Homo sapiens: one gene and its partner. The protein of the gene in region 1 interacts with the protein of each later gene in a pairwise test. Each region holds a gene or a part of one and is shown in the gene's direction. Other genes may lie near its edges.

What was found. The genes of interacting proteins can lie anywhere in the genome.
Region 2: the proteins of HPCAL4 (region 1) and AQP4 interact in binary tests that used the Homo sapiens proteins (3 or more experiments, as listed by UniProt).

The regions. Positions count from the first base shown.
Region 1 is NC_000001.11:39,677,903-39,681,692, reverse strand, and holds the end of HPCAL4 (hippocalcin-like protein 4), read left to right. Parts: 3' UTR 1-3,045; downstream 3,046-3,790. UniProt on the Homo sapiens protein: May be involved in the calcium-dependent regulation of rhodopsin phosphorylation.
Region 2 is NC_000018.10:26,855,708-26,859,459, reverse strand, and holds part of AQP4 (aquaporin-4), read left to right. Parts: intron 1-2,970; coding exon 2,971-3,249; coding exon of another isoform or gene 3,250-3,336; 3' UTR 3,337-3,752. UniProt on the Homo sapiens protein: Forms a water-specific channel. Plays an important role in brain water homeostasis. It is involved in glymphatic solute transport and is required for a normal rate of water exchange across the blood brain interface.

The DNA.
Region 1 (3,790 bases):
ATACTCTATATTACTTGGTTTCTTATAAAATGATTAAATGAATAGAGAAAATATTAATTTTCAAGGGGAAAAAACCTGAGAAGAAAGGGAGAAAAGACCATGAAATTTACCAGATAACACTTTTTAAGACTAAGTCCTGAGCTGCCACTCTCAGCAGTTTTTGCTGCTTCAGCTCTTCCTTTTTATTACCTTTTTCAATTCAACAAGCAACTTTCTGCTACATACTTACTCCGGTTGGGTGCTGACTTCAGGGACAGGAAAAAGCAAGGTTTGCAAAGAGTGAAACTAGTGTATATTCCGTATCTTGGTAGTTCGTTTCTGGATTGGGTTTAGTTTCAGAACTGGACTTGTTCCTTCACTGCCACAGAATCAGAAAGAGCTAGAAGAAAAGGCTCACCTGGCCACTGTTTAGGCACCCAGACATAATTTATGGACGAAATGCCTAAAAATGTGCCAGGCATGCTCTGTTTGAGAGGCTTTTTCTAACCCCAAATCTTAGATCTGCCAGGTAGTTCAACATCTTCCAAGTGTGCTGGTTCTGCTTTCCAATGCCTGCTTCCCAATTTTGGATCCATGAGCTATACAGCTGCATGCTTTGACTGCCGGAAAAATTAATCTTGCTTCTTCATCAGGTCTTTCTCCTGTACTTGTGATCAGAAATTACCTTTGACGTGCAGTGACAGTTGATTTCCTCTTGAACTGCCGGTGAAAACAGTCTAGTACACAGGTGCTGTCAGCCCAGGGTGGGAGCAGGAAATGATTGCTGAGCCCGGGGCAGGGGAATTGCATCTGCAGGAAAGAGATGCAGCATGCTCCTCACTCCTGAGTGCCCACCTGTCCTGCTTCTCTGCAGGTGAAAACTCTGGGGGATGCTGATCAATAGAGCTTGGTCCCAAGCTCTACTGGGCCCTTGGAGGTAGCAAGGCCACTGGGTTGCTATCCTCTTGCTGGGGATAGCAACCACTGGTTTGCAACCACTGGGTTGCTATCCTTTTGCTATCCTCTTGCTCATGACCAGCCATATGGTGAGGCTGGGGAGTTCACATCCTCAGGCAGGAACTAGCAGTTGTTTATCCAGCAATGCCTCAAGGATGTTGCATTGCTCCCAGGAACTGGCTATTAGGTATGTCTTGTGCGGTCAGTCAGCATCACAGACACATAGATGCTCACCAGCCTGGCTTAGCTGGGACCTAAATCTTCTGGTGAAAAGCTTTTCACTAAGTGAGGTTCCTTCCCTGCAAATGCTGAATCTAGCCTAATTCGCAACCACACAGAATTTCATGGCTTTCAAAGGCTTGCCATGTGCCCCATCTCATTCTATACTCACATCCCATGGAGGTGAGGATTTTCACTTCTTTTCTCTAGACTTGGAAGCTGAGATTCAGAGAGGAAGCATCCCTTGTGCAAGATCACATAGTCAGGAGGTGACACAGGGCTAAGACTTGAACCAAGGCTCTAAGAGGATTTCTTCTTTTCAGAGTCTCTTCCCTGTCCATTTCTGTGACTAAGCTGTGCAGAGGTTGACAGCAGGGCAAGTTACATTGATATTCATCCTTTATAGGCTTCCTGCTAAAAAGCTTCTGAGATTGTGGTCTTCCAAAAAAAATAGGAGCTTGGTTGAAGTCCCCACATTTTCAAGCACTCAGTGTTCTGCCTCTGGCAGCTGTGCTAACAGCTCAGTGCTGTCCTGGGAGTCCTCTGACTCAGAACCCTCGAAGCATCCTGCATTGTCTTTACCCACCATCATCTTCACTAAGAGAAACATGCCTACCCATGAAGGCGTGTTTGATTACTCCAGGCTTCTGGACACACATACCCATGGGTGATTTTTGCTCCTCAGGCCCAATATTCTCAGACAGCCCAGCAGTGTGAACACACAATGCCAGGCCAGGAACTGGGACCACCATCTTGCTGATGGAAGGAACAACAGGTGGCCCAGGACATGCTCCTGCATACTCCTGGGTGTCCCAGGGACTGTGTGCTCAGGAGCACTGTGGTAGAGCACTGGCCCTGCCTTGAGAAGAGACACAGGTCTCCCGTCCCTGCACCAGCTGAGAGAGACTTGCCGCAAAGCACAAGGCTGGCAGAGATTTATGTATGACTTGCACAGACACAAAAATATACAGACAATCAAAACATTGATATATTCAAACTCTCCTTTAAATTCCAATCTTATTGCAACAACTCTGTGAATTGCAAGGTCCCAGAATCTGCCTTCTCACATACTCTACCCTCATTCATCCTTTTGGGCTAATTGATGAGCATCTTATTTCTTATCTCTAAAAATTATCAGCAAAGGCTACTTCAGATGGCCACTTTAGTCCTTTCAGCTGTAGTCAGGATTATTTAACTTACCTGTATATCAAAAGTGAAGAAAAAGTTAGTTCATAAGTAAAGGCACTAAATCCTTTCCTGACAATGGCAGAGTCTCTAGAGGTAGAAATTTGCCTTGCTGCAGAGAGAGAAGGAATGGCGTGGGATGGGGGAAAGAAAAGAAAGAGAAGAAGCTGGGGTCTCCAGGCAGGGTAGTAAGCTGACACTAAATATTTTTTACACAAAAATGTATTGAAGCAACAAATATTTCCTGAAGATCCACCCTGGGTGAGGCTTTGAGCTGACTTTAGAGATCACTGTGGGGTCAAGAATGTCTTACATGTTTTATTCATCATTCTTGAAAAAAGAAATAATTCAAACCTTGGAATTAAAAAGTCAGAAAAATATGGGATTTTCTTTCTGGAATTTTCGAGGTTTTCTTTTTACCTTTGCCAGAGTGTGGGGGCAGGACTGGGCCTGCCAGGGTGTATAGCCCTTCCTGCTTGGTGGAGGCCAGTCAGGCCCAGGGCCTTCTAAGCAGCAGTAGAAAGGAGGCTTGGGGAAGTGGGGGGTCTGGGTAGCAGGGGAAGGAGGCCAGTTCCAGTGTAGCCCCCTATCCCCTCCAGATGTGCTGCTTCTGGCTGTGCACTCAGTGACTGCCCTCACTGCTCAACCCTGTGCTGTGTGGTGTGTTTCTTTCCCCACTGACAGTGAATAAAAGGTGCAACTGTGCTGAGGGCTCCTGCTCTTCCCTACACTGGGACAGGATTGGGGTGGGGAGAAAGGGACAGAAGAGGCCTGGGGAGGCTCACTCAGTGAAGGGCCAAGGTCCTTGTTCTAGCAAGGACTCTGGGAACATGGCATGAGACTCACTTGAGCTAGTTCAAAGAAATGGGGGAGCAGATTATAAGGGACTCTGAAGATGGAAAATCAAGAATGACTGAACCTCAGGCCAAGCGCAGAGGCTCACACCTGTAATCCCAGTACTTTGGGAGGCCAAGGGGCAGATCACAAGGTCGAGATCGAGACCATCCTGGCCAACATACTAATAATACAAAAATTAGCTGGGCATGGTGGTGCACGCCTATAGTCCCAGCTATTCGGGAGGCTGAGGCAGGAAAATTGCTTGAACCCAGGAGGCTGAGGTTGCAGTGAGCAGCGGAGGTTGCAGTGAGCCGAGATCGCACCACTGCACTCCAGCCTGGTGACAGAGCAAGACTCCATCTCAAAAAAAATAAAAAAATAAAAATAAAAATAAAATAAAAACTGGCTGAACCTCAAGAGAACTGGAACTGGCAACTGGGCCTCTTCCTTACCATCTCTGGGTCTTGCAGGCTCTTGTTCCCTGGGCAGTATTTGCATCCATGCTCTTTTCCTGGGCTTCTCTTCAGACTTCTTTGGTTTTGTTGCACACAGTGGCTGAATCTCCAACTCGGTATCAAGACTCACCAGTGACTGACAACTCCCCTCTGTGCCT
Region 2 (3,752 bases), on another chromosome or scaffold:
AACCTCCTTCTCCTGGGTTGAAGAGATTCTCCAACCTCAGCCTCCCGAGTAGCTGGGATTACAGGTGCATGCCACCACACTCAGCTAATTTTTGTATTTTTTCATAGAGACAGGGTTTCACCATGTTGGCCAGGCTAGTCTCGAACTCCTGACCTTAGGTGATCCACCTGCCTCAGCCTCCCAAAGTGCTGGGATTACAGGCGTGAGCCACAGTGCCCAGCCCTGATCTTACAATGAAAATACAACTTTCAGTTCAACATATTAAATTGAAACTATTTTGTCATTAACAACTTTTAGTTAAATTTATAAGCACTTGAAAATGTAGATGAAAAAATATATTTTACTAATTACTTGTCAGTTGCAGTAAACTAGTTAAGATTTAAATAGTAGGAACATTCTTAGCTTGTTGATTAAACTAAAAGTTGCCCCATGTTATATTATACCAATCTTAATTCTACTAAAAATAGCAATGGTTGTATGAAATTTAGAACTAATTTAAAGTATATTTGTAGGTAGAAAGATTAGGAATAACATTAAAATATTAATTGGGTTTTTTGTATAGTGTAATGATATTATTTTAGTTTTCTTTATACTTTTACACATTTTCTAGATTTTTAGCAATAAAGATTCTTTACTTTAAAGTACATATGACTTCATTTTGAAATAGCAACTTGACACTGAGATTTGTTTATTTTTGAGAACATGCAGCTGGGTATCTTATTCACAGATGTTTTGGAAAGGGTAGTAATTATTTTGCTGTTCTAGTCTCCCTTGTGGGATTTGTAGCCTGTGGAATAGTACATGTCTAATGAGACCTTACTAACAAAGAGCAAAGACATTTAGAGGAGGGCTCTCATTTCTCCTTTAAAAGGGCATAGAGAAGATAAAGGCTCATATGGGTTTTTTCATGTTCAAGAGAGGAACTTGATTCTTCCAGCCACACTAGCAACAGTTTCCCCGTAAATGTTATGTCTTCAGCCTCAGCTTAAATTTTGAATTTTATTTAAATCTTACAATGAGGATGCAAACTGAGATTAATTTGCAGAGGGTGTTTTAAACAAAAAGCATCCATCATGTTTTTTTTCAAATGAGTGTGTAGTACAGTGGAAAACAGTATACTGCAGTGTTTGGAACAGTGTTTCAAAAGAGAGGTTTTCATTTTGTTTGTTTGTTTTTTTCTTTTTTTTGAGACAGGGTCTTACTCTGTTGCCCAGGCTGGAGTAGAGTGTCACGATCATGGCTCACTGCAGCCGAGACCTCCCTGGGCTCAAGTGATCCTCCTATCTCAGCCTCCCAAGTAGCTGGGACTACAGGTGCACACCACCAAGCCCAGCTAATTTTTTTTTGTATTTTGTAGAGACAGGGTTTCACCATGTTGCTCAGGCTGAATCGAACTCCTGGGCTCAAGCAATCCACCCACCTTGGCCTCTTAAAGTGCTGGGATTACAGGTGTGAGCCACTGTGCCCAGCCTCAAATGAGAGGTTTGAAGTCAGACAGGTCTGAAATCTCAGCTCAACCATTTGATAAGCACAAAATCTTAAGCAAGCTTATTACCCTCTCAGAGTGTCACTCTTCTTTTCATAAAATGGGAAGAATAATAATATTTATCTCATTGGTTATTGTTAGAATTAAATGAGATTATACAAGAAAAGTGCCAAGTACGGCTGGCCCGGGGACAGTGCTCAACAAGCAGGGTTTCTGTTGCCCAAGTGCGTCTGTTAAATAAATGTCTAATATTCTACAGCACACATGTGCTCTAAAGCAAATGTCTGCACTTCATTCAAACTCAAAACTTTATTCTAGGGGCATAGCTAATATGTAATAATAATTTCCGGCTGGGCACGGTGGCTCACACCTGTAATCCCAGCACTTTGGGAGGCTGAGGCAGGTGGATCACGAGGTCAGGAGATTGAGACCATCCTGGCTAACACAGTGAAACCCCATCTCTACTAAAAATACAAAAAATTAGCCAGGCGTGGTGGCGGGCACCTGTAGTCCCAGCTACTCAGGAGGCTGAGGCAGGAGAATGGCGTGAACCCGGGAGGCAGAGCTTGCAGTGAGTGGCGATCGCCCACTGCACTCCAGCCTAGGTGACAGAGCAAGACTCCGTCTCAAAATTAATAATAATAATAATAATAATAATAATTTCCATTTATTGAAATCCTATGGAATTGCTACTTCTCAACTAGCCATAAACTCATATTTTTTCACCAAGCCATCGTGAGAACCGCATAGATGAAAGCTATCTGCACAGTAATGAACACGAGGTTTTCATTTAAATCAAATCACCAAATTTTGGAAGCCTGGAATGGAGCAGATTACTACGAGCTAAAAACTATCAAGTACTTTACAAGTATTGTTGCATTTAATCCTTTTACCCCGTGAGGTTTGTATTATTATAATCCCCACTTTACAGATGAGGAAATTAAGACTTGGAAAGTTACGTAACTGATACAAGCACTCATAACTCTGCTAAGTGGTGGAGCTGGGTTGGTTTTGATCATGCTTACCTGAATAACGGAATCCCCAAAAGATAAAAACTGTGTTATGATCATGATTGTGCAGGAAACCAGTGTAAAATGGCAATATTGAGAAAATAAGAGAAGGACTCTCCAGAAATTTTTTTTTTATTTTAGTTAAAGAATTCTTAGTGCGCTTAATTTGTAGTACCACCAAAGAGGATCTATCTTTACATTAACGATTATCATAAGATGGAAAGAACATAATTAATGAAAAGAGGATAGGAGATGAAACAGTTCTTTTTGTTTTCTGTTCAAATGCAGTTTAATAATTTATGGATCTCTGATGAGGCTTTGGTGTGTTTTCTTATTTCCTCTCCAATTCCCCTCTTTTTGATGCATGACACAAATACACTCTTAATTTAACCCAGCTAGATTCTACATTCATGAGCTGCTCAATGGAATAGCTTTTCTCTACTTACACTCTATCCTCTTCCATCTTTTCCTTAGATATATTGGGTTGGGCCCATCATAGGAGCTGTCCTCGCTGGTGGCCTTTATGAGTATGTCTTCTGTCCAGATGTTGAATTCAAACGTCGTTTTAAAGAAGCCTTCAGCAAAGCTGCCCAGCAAACAAAAGGAAGCTACATGGAGGTGGAGGACAACAGGAGTCAGGTAGAGACGGATGACCTGATTCTAAAACCTGGAGTGGTGCATGTGATTGACGTTGACCGGGGAGAGGAGAAGAAGGGGAAAGACCAATCTGGAGAGGTATTGTCTTCAGTATGACTAGAAGATCGCACTGAAAGCAGACAAGACTCCTTAGAACTGTCCTCAGATTTCCTTCCACCCATTAAGGAAACAGATTTGTTATAAATTAGAAATGTGCAGGTTTGTTGTTTCATGTCATATTACTCAGTCTAAACAATAAATATTTCATAATTTACAAAGGAGGAACGGAAGAAACCTATTGTGAATTCCAAATCTAAAAAAAGAAATATTTTTAAAATGTTCTTAAGCAAATATATACCTATTTTATCTAGTTACCTTTCATTAACAACCAATTTTAACCGTGTGTCAAGATTTGGTTAAGTCTTGCCTGACAGAACTCAAAGACACGTCTATCAGCTTATTCCTTCTCTACTGGAATATTGGTATAGTCAATTCTTATTTGAATATTTATTCTATTAAACTGAGTTTAACAATGGCAAAATACAGTATGTCACAGTCATGCACATTCAAGAGAGAAAATATAACAAGTTCTTTTATGAGCAATCCCTTATGCATAGACT